Linked DNA regions of Homo sapiens. The protein of the gene in region 3 interacts with the protein of the main gene of each other region in a pairwise test. Each region holds a gene or a part of one and is shown on either strand. Other genes may lie near its edges.

Region 1 (3,600 bases), on a different chromosome or scaffold from region 3:
CAGTGCAGGGCATTGGAGGCTGACTCCACAGTGGACAGAGAAGACTTTCAGGGAGATCAGCTCAGCTCAGTCTGAGGGGCAGGGACAGGAGGAGATAGCGTTTCTGCGGTTATCAGGAAGGGAAGTGGAGGAGGCAGCCAGGAAGATATCGGGAAGAAAGAGGAAGGGCGTGTGCTAGATCCCGAAGAGGAAAAAGCAGCTGAATTTAGCAGCCTCAGGGGTGTGAAGGTCAAAAGTATCAAGGAATCTTAAGCCCAGGGTTCTGGGCCAAGAAAGCAGGACTCTCTCTCATTTACATGGGCATCTGAGATGAAACCTGGTGTCCGGGGACTTCTACCAACCTAGGATTCGTGGGGGAGGGCAGTGGGACTGGTTCAGAACCTGGCTCCCCTGTTTACTAGATGTCTGACCTTGGGAGAATTACTTTGCCTCTCCGTACTTCATTATCTCCATCTATAAAATGGGGAGAACACCACCTTATAGGGTTGCTCTAAAGATTAGACAAGGCCAAGTGTTCAGAACAATACTGGCATATACAAAGAGCTCCAAAATTTTATTTTTCAGTTACTTTGCTCCAGTGGTGGGTGAATGCAGAGGGCCTGGCTGGGGAAGAGGGTCTCTGCCTCTCTGGGTTTAGACCAGGACAGCAGAGCTGCAATACTCCCCCTGCCCTAGATCAGGGACATTGCAAAGACTGGGGGGACAGGCTGGACAGCTGCTCAGAGACTGCAGCAAGCAGGGCTTGGTCGCCCTGGGAGAGCAGGCAGAAGGTCAAGGAAGTTGTACAGGGAATGCCACCTCCCTGCACACCATCATCTATCCTGGGCTTTCCAGGGCAACCTAGATTTCAAACCCTCTGCTCCCTGGTGCCCCTGTGAACAGCAGAACTCACCACCCTGTGCCCCTAAAGTCCACTCACTGCAAATGCAGGGCCCCATTCTGAGACTGCATTCCTAGCAAATGACTCTCCCTGGTCAAGGAGACGGCTACTCTAACAAGGGCATGGGGAATACACGTCTGGGAAAGAATGGGTGCTCACCCTGTTCAGGCAGAGGAAAAGCCGGGGAAGGTGAAAGACCAGGGGTGGCCACAACCCGCAATCTTGAGACAGTGTTGGGGTATGGAGGTGGGGGCTGGGTGGCAGTAAATGGTACTCCAGAATTTAATTAAACACAGCTTCCTCTTTAATATCTCCCAGGACCAGGCCCTTCACTGCACCAGCCAGAGTTCTGCTCTAACTAGCAATGCTGGGCTTAAAGGGGTGGTCCTGGGATCGCCCTCCCTGCTGAGACCCTCACAACTGCTGCGGCTGTCAATGGCCCGATTCCTCACTGCCCGGAGGGCACCGGCCAAGGCCCTTCTTCCTAACCTCTGGGCGGGCGCACCCCGCCCCAGGCCCTGCCAGGGAAAAAGCGAACTCCCCAAGGGACGTGGTGGGAGGGACCCAAAGGCAGCCTTCCAGGGAGCCCTGGGGGTGGGGAAGACGCCAGGAAGGGGAGAGGGCGGCGCCGATTGACAAGCCCATCCCGGGTAGGGTCTGCGCTCTTCTCGTTCAATAAAATCCAAACGGGGTCCCGAGGCTGCTCGGATCCCGTGGGACACGCCGCCCCTGTGCCCAGCTCCCAGCAAGGTCCTCGACTCGGGCTGAACGGCGCTGGAGGGGACCTCGCAGGGCTGGGTCTCCCGGGCCTTTCCCTCCCCGCGCCCATAGCGGGTCCGGGCAGAGGGGTCCCGAGGGCAGGGCCGGCCCGGACGCGGCGCCCCAAACGGCGGGCCGGGCAGAGCCCAGCGCCCCGCTCGCACCCAGCCCGCCCGGGCCCCCCACTCACCGGCCTGGCGGAGGCAGGATCCAGGCGTCGCCGCAGCGCCCGGGGCTCGGCCCGGCCCGGCCCGCCGGCAGGAGGCAGCTCCACGCCGCCGCCTCCTCCTCGGCCAGCCCGCTCGCGCCCCTCCCGCACACTTTCCACAGGAAATGATTAACTCGGGCCGCGGCGCGTTCCCATGGCAACCGGCTCCGACCCCGGCGGGGGGCGGCGGCGCGCGCCCGCACTCACGCGCACTGGCGCGCACGCGTCAGCCCGGGCGCGCCCCCGCAGGTCTCCCGCCGGCACTCCCACTCCCACTCCCACTCCTTCGCGGGGCCTCCCACTCGGTCTCTCCCGCCTCCCCGCGTCCCGCACTCGCACTGGCACACGTGCTCATGCGTTCCCTGAAGGCTCTCACAAAACAGGCCTGCACACGGGCTGGCACACACGAGGCAGCCCACACAGCCCCACACCTGGTGAGCCATGCGTACTTTTGCACAGCCTCAAACCCGAGTGCAAAACTTCCACGCGAGTACTCACACATACACTTCTCACGCGGGCTCTCATACCAGTACGTGTCTTCCCATCCCAACACACACACAAGCTCTTACTCACGAGACAATACATGTACATCCCTTACCGTGTCCTTGCACGCGCTGGCGCACATGCACTCACACTGTTTACAGCGCACACGCTCTCACTCGCTCCACCACCTACTCGCTGGCCAGGCCGCCTTCTAGCCACAGCACTTCCTACCTCTGCACCCCCAGCCCCACCCCAGCAAATGAATATCTTCCCAGCAAGGAAGCTGCCTGGAGTCCCTTAAGGTAAAACACACCAATGGTGCAGCAGTTCCCGGCCTTGCTGCAGAAGGCCCTGCTACTGGGGCACCTAGAGCCTCAGAAGAGGCCTGGGGGAGGCCAGGGGCCTGCCAGCCGGGAGAGACAGCTGACCTGGAGGAGCCACTCTGTTCTTTGTCTCCCAAACAGAGGCAGCATTTTATTCCAGAGCCAGCAGCAATATTCTCCCTCACTCTCCACACCCCCGGGTGCGGAAGAGGAGAAAGCAAGTCACTCTGAAGCCAGCCCATGCAGGCTGACGGTTCTGCAGATAATCCCAGGAGGGCGGGTACTCTGTCCCTTCCTGCTTGTCAGGGGATGGCCCAAGAAGATCAAGGAGAGGACTGGAGGGGGTCGGGCAACTCCAGGTGGGTTCTATCTCCTGCTGCCGCCCAGGCGCTGGGCTGCCAGTCAAGAATCTCGACCAGCGACGGAGCCAAGGGCCTGGGCCTCAGATTGTTCTGGACGCCAGAGCAGGACAGTCACAGTCCCCCAGCTGGAAGCAGCCTAGTGCATGCTTTATTTGACAACTGAGATTCCTCAGTGAAGGCCTGATAGAGGGTGAATGTAACGCTCCTGGAATCATTCCCTAGAGAGTTAGATTTCCAGCTGAACACCACACTGGAGAACCCTTCCAATGGGAGAGAAAGCCTTATTTGGGGAGTTATGATCTCTGAATTCCTCTGCCTGCCCTCCAAACAGCAGTGATCCAGGGGACCGCAAGGGTGGATGAAGGCAAAATGTCTCTAGAATTCTGATTTAGTATCTATCTCCCTTGATTATAGTCCCTATGAGTTGATGGGGCGGGGGATGGGGAGGACAGAATGTCTTTAAAGTCCTGGTTCAAAACTGGAGACTTTTTCTTACTCAGGGATTGAGTACATTGACATTAACTGTAGGTCCTTCCCACCAAAGCCAAAGCCAGATTTTTAAATTAATAATAACATTTATTGTTC
Region 2 (3,818 bases), on a different chromosome or scaffold from region 3:
TCAAGGCCCGGCCTCAGTGCCACATCCAGGACGCCCTCTGCGAGTCACTCCTTCCAGAAGTAACCTCCCTCCTCCAAACTCCCTCTACACACTTTATAGTATAGAACCGAGAGGTGACAGGACCTCGGAAGCCGTACCTGAAGCCTCTCACTTATAGAACCGAGAGGTGACAGGACCTCGGAAGCCATACCTGAAGCCTCTCACTTATCACTTAAAAACTGCGCATGAAGTAGCTCTTATGGGCAAATACTAAACCATGAGGTTGTACATATTCATTTCACCTGAAAAGGGGCATGAACTCTGGACCCTTCAACAAAAATGCTGATTCCACGTGGAGCAAACTGCTCTGATTTCATATCCCTATGCCCACATCCTTGATAAAAAGACTCTTCGGTACATGCTGCTTTCTTCCAGAGACAAGGAACCCATCACCTCATGAGTTAGGTTCTTCCTCCTGACCCTCTGACCACCCTGGGGACTCCCACGGATTGGCTCTTTCTGTCCTCTTGAGTCACACAGAACGAATTCCTTTGAGACTCCTGGTGTCCTCCACAGAGCCAAACAGGGCAGGTTCCTAAGCACACTGTGTAAACAGATAAATGAACTCAGAGGGCTTTCCCACGTGGCAGGGTACATTCGCTGCATCCCGTGCATGCATGGGTGCACAGACACACACTCGCACACACACGGACACACACACACACACACGGACACACACACACAGACACACACACACACGGACACACACACACACGGACAGAGTCAGCACAACGCCTCTGAGCCACACAGCCAGGCCAGCACACGCGGGGGCCAGGGCGGAAGCCAAGCCCCAGCAGCCGCCCACTTCCTGACCTCCTTCCTTTGCTCTGGGAGGTTCTCTCTCTGTGTCTTTCTGACTGTCTGTCTCGGTTCTTTGTTTCTCGGCATGGCAACAGTTGTGGATGCTGCCTGCGTGGCCAGGGCTCCTAGTAGCACTGACCTGCAAGGTAGGAGTTTTGGTTCTTAGACTTGAGACCTTGGGCAAGTCACTTTACCATTCTGAGCCTCAGTTTCCTCATCTGTGAAATGAAGAGGCTGGATGAGGCTGGAGGGTTCCTAAGGTCCTTTCCTGACCAAAACCCTAGTGCTTCTCGGCTCTCCTCCAGTCCCGTTACCGAGTGACAGGGAGGGGAGCAAGGGCCAGGCCAGGCCTGGGGGTGGCAGGGGAGCCAGCTGTTCCCCCCCAAGGGCACACAGCCTCCATCCAGGCCCTCTGCGAGTTCCATGTGCGGCAGACACGCGCTCACACTTCGCAGCCGGAGGAGCAGGCAGGAAGCGCCGCCCCCCGGCCGCCCCGGCCGCCCACCCTCAACCTTCCTCCACGTTACCTTGGGCGTGTAGGCTTCCCGTGGACCTGCCCGCGCCGCCCGCTCGGCTCTCAGCTGTCAAGCAGCCGCCTGCTCCGCCCGACTCTTTCCGCTCCGAGCCGCGCGGGCTGGACCAGCCCCTCAGCGGAGCTGAACGGGAAGCGGCGCCCCCTGGACGCCCTCCGGGACGTGCGCGCGCCAAGCGGTGGGGTCCGGGCCTGCAGGCGCGACCTGAGGCCGCCAGGGAGGCTGGGTGGCGAGGGCGGGGCGGCTGCCGACTTAGCCGGCCTGACTGGTCGGGCTTCCGGGGTCCCGCTGCTCCCTAGGCCCCTTGCCCCGATTCAGGCTCCCAAGGTGGGGCATCAGTCCGGCCCTCGCTGGCTCACTGGAGAGGTGGTGTCTGGGAGTGCACCCCCGAAAACCCGGCAGCAGCCCGGCGTCACTCCGGCTGTTACCTCTGGGAGCAGAAACTAAAGGGGATCCTTATTCTTTATACTTTTCTGACTCTTCTATATATTCTACTGTGGGCATGAATCGTTAAAAACAAAACAAAACACCAAAAACCCAATACGTATTTGTTAATAAAGCACTGAGTAAATCTTCAAAGGCCTCCCGAGGTGCTCCGGCTGCAGGATAACCCCTCAGCTTAGCGCACAAGGCAAGGCCCACCCTGCCCTCTCCGGCCACAACCTAATTTTCCAGCCTCACCCTCTCTCCCTCACACACACACAACACTTTCGCTCTGGACACACTAGCTGTTGCCAAACACCAGCTGTTCTTCATGGCTGCTGGGAGTTCTTCTTTTTGCCTGGAACACCCTCCCCTTTCATCTCTGCCTGTTGAAATCCTACTCATCCATCCAGGCCCCTCTGAAATGTCACCTTTTTGGAGAACCCTTCCCCAGACACTGCCCCTGCAGAGTGCCCCAGTTCTTTCCTGGCAAGCCCATCTTTCTGGTACTGGTTTATGTAGTAGCATCCCCCTCTCACACGCGCTAAGTCCTATTCCAAGGTGGAGAGAAACAAATTAGCACTTACTGAGCAGCTGTTATAAATTACTCTGTGGAGTCCTTTCTTCTCCTTGCAGCCCAGCCAGCCACTAGCCCACAACCTCCCTCCACCCTGCCAGAGTTTCAGAAGGCTGTCAGGGGCTCTGAGGCCTGCCCTCTGGTGTGTCCCTACTGCGTGCCTTGGCTTTTCTGGCTCTGTCCTGGGTATGCTTCCCTGTGTCAACTCCCAAGGTCTGCAAGCTGGTGGCTTGACCTTCTCTCAGCCTTATGTGAGGAAAGAAGGACATTTCATTATCAGAATCTGAGAAGTGGAAGGGGCCTCAGAGATTATCCAGTGTAAAGCCTGCCCACCCATTTTACAGAGCAGAAAACTGTGACCAGAGAGATAAGGTCAGAGGCATCGGAGGTACCTACCATTGTTATTGTTGTTTTTAATAGTGTTAATACTTGCACGTTTAGATCGCCTTTCACTTCTAAATCAATGCGTTGTCATTCATTTGCCCCTTACAGTCTCAGAGGTATTACAGTGGTTAGTGCACAGACTCTGGAGGCCAAAGCCCTGGGTTTGAATCTCAGTGCTCCAACTTGCCAGCTACGTCCTTGGCAAGTTACTGGAACTTTCTCCATCAGTACAATGTGGATAGTAACAGCTCCTGCATCATGGGGTGTTCTATGAATCGAAATAAATGTGTATCTTTAAAGGGCTTAGAATAGTAGTAGGTTCATTAAAAATGCCAAATGTATTTGCTCTTATCAAATTTTTGTTATTGTTAATTGTATCACTTCACAGTTGGAATAACAGAGGCTCAGAAAGGCTGAGACTCATCCAAAAAATTGCTGCTTTGAGGATGGTTTCTCACCAAACTCCATGCAGTCATCTTTGTCTCTGATGCCATTCTGCTTCCTGTTCCCTTGTGTCTGAGTCTAACCACCTATTTAATAGGGAAGAAAAGCAACTGTCCTTTAGCCCACCTCAGAACACCTAGACATTTCATGTTGCAAACATTAACCACATCTTCTGGCTTCTATGGGGATGTCTCTAATTTGCTGGCGTTTTCTTTAACAGAACACCACGCCTCATGGTGCCCTTCAGAATCACAGAGCCATCACATTAACTGCTGCAAGTTCAGCTTGTACATTCGTGCCTCTTTTACTCTTGGCCCGTGGCAGAAAAGCGACAGGGAAAAGATGGTTCTTCCAATGTATGGATGTAGGAAACTGAGGCACAGTTGATACTCACTGATTGGCCCCAGGCTATGGAGCTAGCCTGGACCATGGGAAGGATGAGGATCTCCACCTCCTCTTTCCCCATGATTACATGATTCAGTGTTGCAGGAGAAACCCAAACTCGTTTATTCAATGAGGATTTATTGAGCTCTCTCTAGGTGACGAATAAGACCGAGGCAAGGCTGGCTTCCTGGGCATATGACCTATGAAGTCACATAGGCCAGAGGTCCCCAACC
Region 3 (3,818 bases):
ACCCTGGCAGGCAGTCCCCTCTCCCCACTCTTTGCCAGGGTTCCAGAGCCCCTCCCAACAGGGCCCAACTCACAGCTGCTCACCTTGCTGGGTTGGCCCTGCTGGCAGCGCGGATGCTGCAATAACACAGCCACTTCAGACTCGCTCTGCTTTTCAACTCTATCCAGTTAGGCAGTTCCTGACTCAGGCGTGATGGGTCCTGCTTCACTGGATCTGTCCAAGGCAAAGCAGAGGTATTTTGCTGTGATTCTGTCCCACACACATGTCCCTGCCCAGGCCATGCCAATTCAGACTCTGCATAGGTGTTCACTAGGACCCTGGTGCAGGGATAGAAGAAACTGCTCAACTGACAGAGGGAGCGGAGCGGGGGGAGGAGTCGGGGGACGAATGGTGAGAGGGGTGGGAGGTGAGGAGGGAGGTAGGGGGTGGGGGCAGGGGGGCTGCTGGTAGGGCAGAAGGGATCCTAAGGTAAGGTTGCTGCCCTACCCCCACTGCAAACTCCATTCCCTCCCAAGCTCCGCCCCTACAGCCATGTTGCAACCCTTCCTAAGCCCCACCTCAAAACCTGCACCCCTGCTGCCAAACTCTGCCTATAACTAAGTTGCACCTCTACCCCAAGCTTAGCCCCCCACCAAGTCTAACCCCTTCCACCACCCAAGTCTAACTCGTGCCTCAAGCCCTGCCCCCACCCACAGTCCAACTCCTACCCCAAGCCCTGCCCCCTCACCAAGTCCAACTCCTACCCCGAGGCAAGTCTAACTGATATCCCCAAATCCCCTACCTCCATTCCCCTGCTCCCCCCAATCCCCACCCGGTTATCTACATACACCCACACCACCGACATCAGTGGAAGCAGGCAGAATCTAGGAGGGGAAGGTTCGAAGCCACTTTCCCTCAAGGGCAAGGGCCAAGAGCTACTATCCTGACTGCAGTGTCTCCGGGCAGGTCAAGGGTGGAATAGGTCTCCCTGAAGTTTGTTTGTTTTTCTCTGAAACGGAGTCTGGCTTTGTCACCCAGGCTGGAGTGCAGTAGCGTATCTCGGCTCACTGCAACCTCCGCCCCCTGGGTTCAAGTGATTCTCCGGCCTCAGCCTCCTGAGTAGCTGGGATTACAGGCGTACACCACCACGCCCGGCTACTTTTTGTATTTTTAGTAGAAACGGGGTTTCCCCATGTTGGCCAGGCTGGTCTCCAACTCCTGACCTCAGGTGATCCACCCGCCTCGGCCTCCCAAAGTGCTGGGATTACAGGTGTGAGCCACCGCGCCCGGCCAGGTCTCCCTGAAGTTCTGCCTGGAAATGGCAGGGATTCCTTGGCGTGCTGGGTGTGATCTAGTGGGATCCCGCCTCCAGGGAAACCTATGGCCACCAGCCCCTAGACCCCGTGGAAAATAGCAAGAGTTACTGGGGGGTTCCCCCGTAATCTGGGTTGCTGTCCGAGCCCGGGGTCCAGCTCCGTACCTGCCGGAGGTGCCTCCAAGCCGGAGTTCCCGCGCAGCGCGACCACCACACGTCTATGGCGGCTGCCGCCTCCGTGCTGACTGCGCCACGAGGCTGTGGCGGGAAGAGGTTGTCTGGTGACGACCGCCCCCCTACCCCATGAGCGGAACTGCACACGGCCCGCTCACGGTTGCGCACTGGTGACATAAACCCTCCTACTTCCTGCAAGGTGGTTCCTCACCCCACCCACCCCCGTGCCGACGACGGTGGCAGCCAGGCTCGCCACGTGCCATTTGGCCCAGCAGCCACTGTGGCTCTTCCTCATTGGAGGGGAGCTGTGGCGTCCCAAGCCCATGGGTGAAGGGCCGGGTGCAAATCACCCAGTGCAACGTATAGGCCACGTGAGCGCCCTTATAAACGAGTCATAGCCCTCGTTTATTTTTTATTGGACTGTTCTAGGGGAGGAGGGCAAAAAATACAGCTACTGCCTGCATTTCACAAGGGCATTAGTTTTTTTTCGCTGCTCACTGAGAGCCAGATGACTGAAAATATTCCATTCTCCCATTATTCTCCTGATTTCACGACCAAACATTACGCACCTAGTACCCAAACTGCTTCCTGTCGTTTCCCAAAGCAGGTTTCTTCCACAGAGGGAAGGTCCTGCGGCTTGCAGCGGCCCGAAAGTACTGTTCCAGAAAAGGGTGTGGGTGCGGCACAGGTAGCACACTTCAAGGTGCACACAAATCCCCTGGTAATCTTAAAAAAATGCGTGAAGAGATCTGAGGCAGGGATGGTTCCACTGAAAGCTAGGTTACTTGCTGCATATCCCTGCCCAGGCTGTGTGGAGCAAGGGTCTGAAGCCTATGATTACATTTCAGGGCCAGAAGTTGTGGACCTTTAGTGACAGAATATATTTGTTTTTCTTTCTCTGTGATTAAAAAAGAAAAGGCTTTTTCTGGTACTGTTTTAATAAATATGTTAAAAGCGGACAACATTTTAAATTTATGGTCACTGAGAAAGATATTTGCAGATATCACCTTCTTCAGCCAGGTGTGGTGGCTCACACCTGTAATCCCAGCACTTTGGGAGGCCAAGGTGGGCAGATCACTTGAGATCAGCCTGGCCAACATGGCGAAACCCCGTCTCTACTAAAAATCCCAAAATCAGCTGGGTGTGTAATCTGAGTAGCTGAGTAGCTGTAATCCCAGCTACTCAGGAGGCTGAGGCACGAGAATCGCTTGTACCTGGGAAGCAGAGGTGGCAGTGAACCCAGATCACACCACTGCACTCCAGCTTGGGCAACAAAGTGAGAGCCTGTCTTTTTTTTTTTTTTTTTTTGAGAAGGAGTCTCACTCTGTCACCCAGGCTGGAGTGCAGTGGCGCGATCTCGGCTCACTGCAAGCTCCACCTCCTGGGTTCACACCATTCTCCTGCCTCAGCCTCCCGAGTAGCTGGGACTACAGGCGCCCGCCACCACGCCCGGCTAATTTTTTGTATTTTTTAGTAGAGACAGGGTTTCACTGTGTTAGCCAGGATGGTCTCGATCTCCTGACCTCGTGATCCACCCACCTCGACCTCCCAAAGTGCTGGGATTAGAGGTGTGAGCCACCGTGCCTGGCCGAGATCCTGTCTGGAAAAAAAAAAAGACAATTCAGAGCCCATTAAATCAATCTCCTTCATGTGACAAGGAGAAAATAGTGCTGAAAGCCATTGCTTAGCTGCCTGGTATCACAACATCACAGAAGGTGATGTTTTGGAAAGAGGTTCTGCCTCAGTCACCTCTGGGCTACTGGGTGCTCCCCTGGCCAGACGTATACTTCAATTCATTCTATTTCTCACTAGAAGACTAGCTTCCTCTCTCTCTCTCTTTTTTCTGTCTCAGTCTGTTTTGTGCTTCTATAATCAAATACCTGAGACTGGGTAACATATAATGAACAGGAATTTATTTAGCTCATGTTTCTGAAGGCTGAGAACTCTAAGATCAAGGGGCTGCACCTGCTGAGGGCCTGGCATGCAGGCATCAAGACGTGAAAGCATGTGTAAGAGTGAGCAAAAGAAAGAGAAGAAAGGGGCCTAAACTCATTTTTTAAAAAAAAAATCAGGAACTCACTCCCACAATAACAAATCCACTCCCGAGATAACAGCATTTGTCCATTCACACTGGCAGAGTCCTCCTCACCTAATCACCTCTTAAAGGTCCCACTTCTCAACAGTTGTATTGGGGATTAAGTTTCCAACACATGAACTCTGGGGGACACATTCAAACCATAGCACTTTTCTTTAAAAAAAGTTATTGGGGATAGTGACAATGTTGAATTTTTCCTGAGCCCTGTGATCCTGGAAAACAGTGAAGGTTAAGAAACCCTCAGCCCTTTGTGTT

What was found.
Region 1: the proteins of PNMA5 (region 3) and KIFC3 interact in binary tests that used the Homo sapiens proteins (3 or more experiments, as listed by UniProt).
Region 2: the proteins of PNMA5 (region 3) and CRACR2A interact in binary tests that used the Homo sapiens proteins (3 or more experiments, as listed by UniProt).

What each region holds. Positions count from the first base shown.
Region 1 is NC_000016.10:57,800,541-57,804,140, forward strand, and holds the start of KIFC3 (kinesin-like protein KIFC3), read right to left. Parts: upstream 1,952-3,600; 5' UTR 1,830-1,951; intron 1-1,829. UniProt on the Homo sapiens protein: Minus-end microtubule-dependent motor protein. Involved in apically targeted transport. Required for zonula adherens maintenance.
Region 2 is NC_000012.12:3,751,648-3,755,465, forward strand, and holds the start of CRACR2A (EF-hand calcium-binding domain-containing protein 4B), read right to left. Parts: upstream 1,463-3,818; 5' UTR 1,368-1,462; intron 1-1,367.
Region 3 is NC_000023.11:152,992,574-152,996,391, forward strand, and holds the start of PNMA5 (paraneoplastic antigen-like protein 5), read right to left. Parts: upstream 1,544-3,818; 5' UTR 1,460-1,543; intron 214-1,459; 5' UTR 84-213; intron 1-83.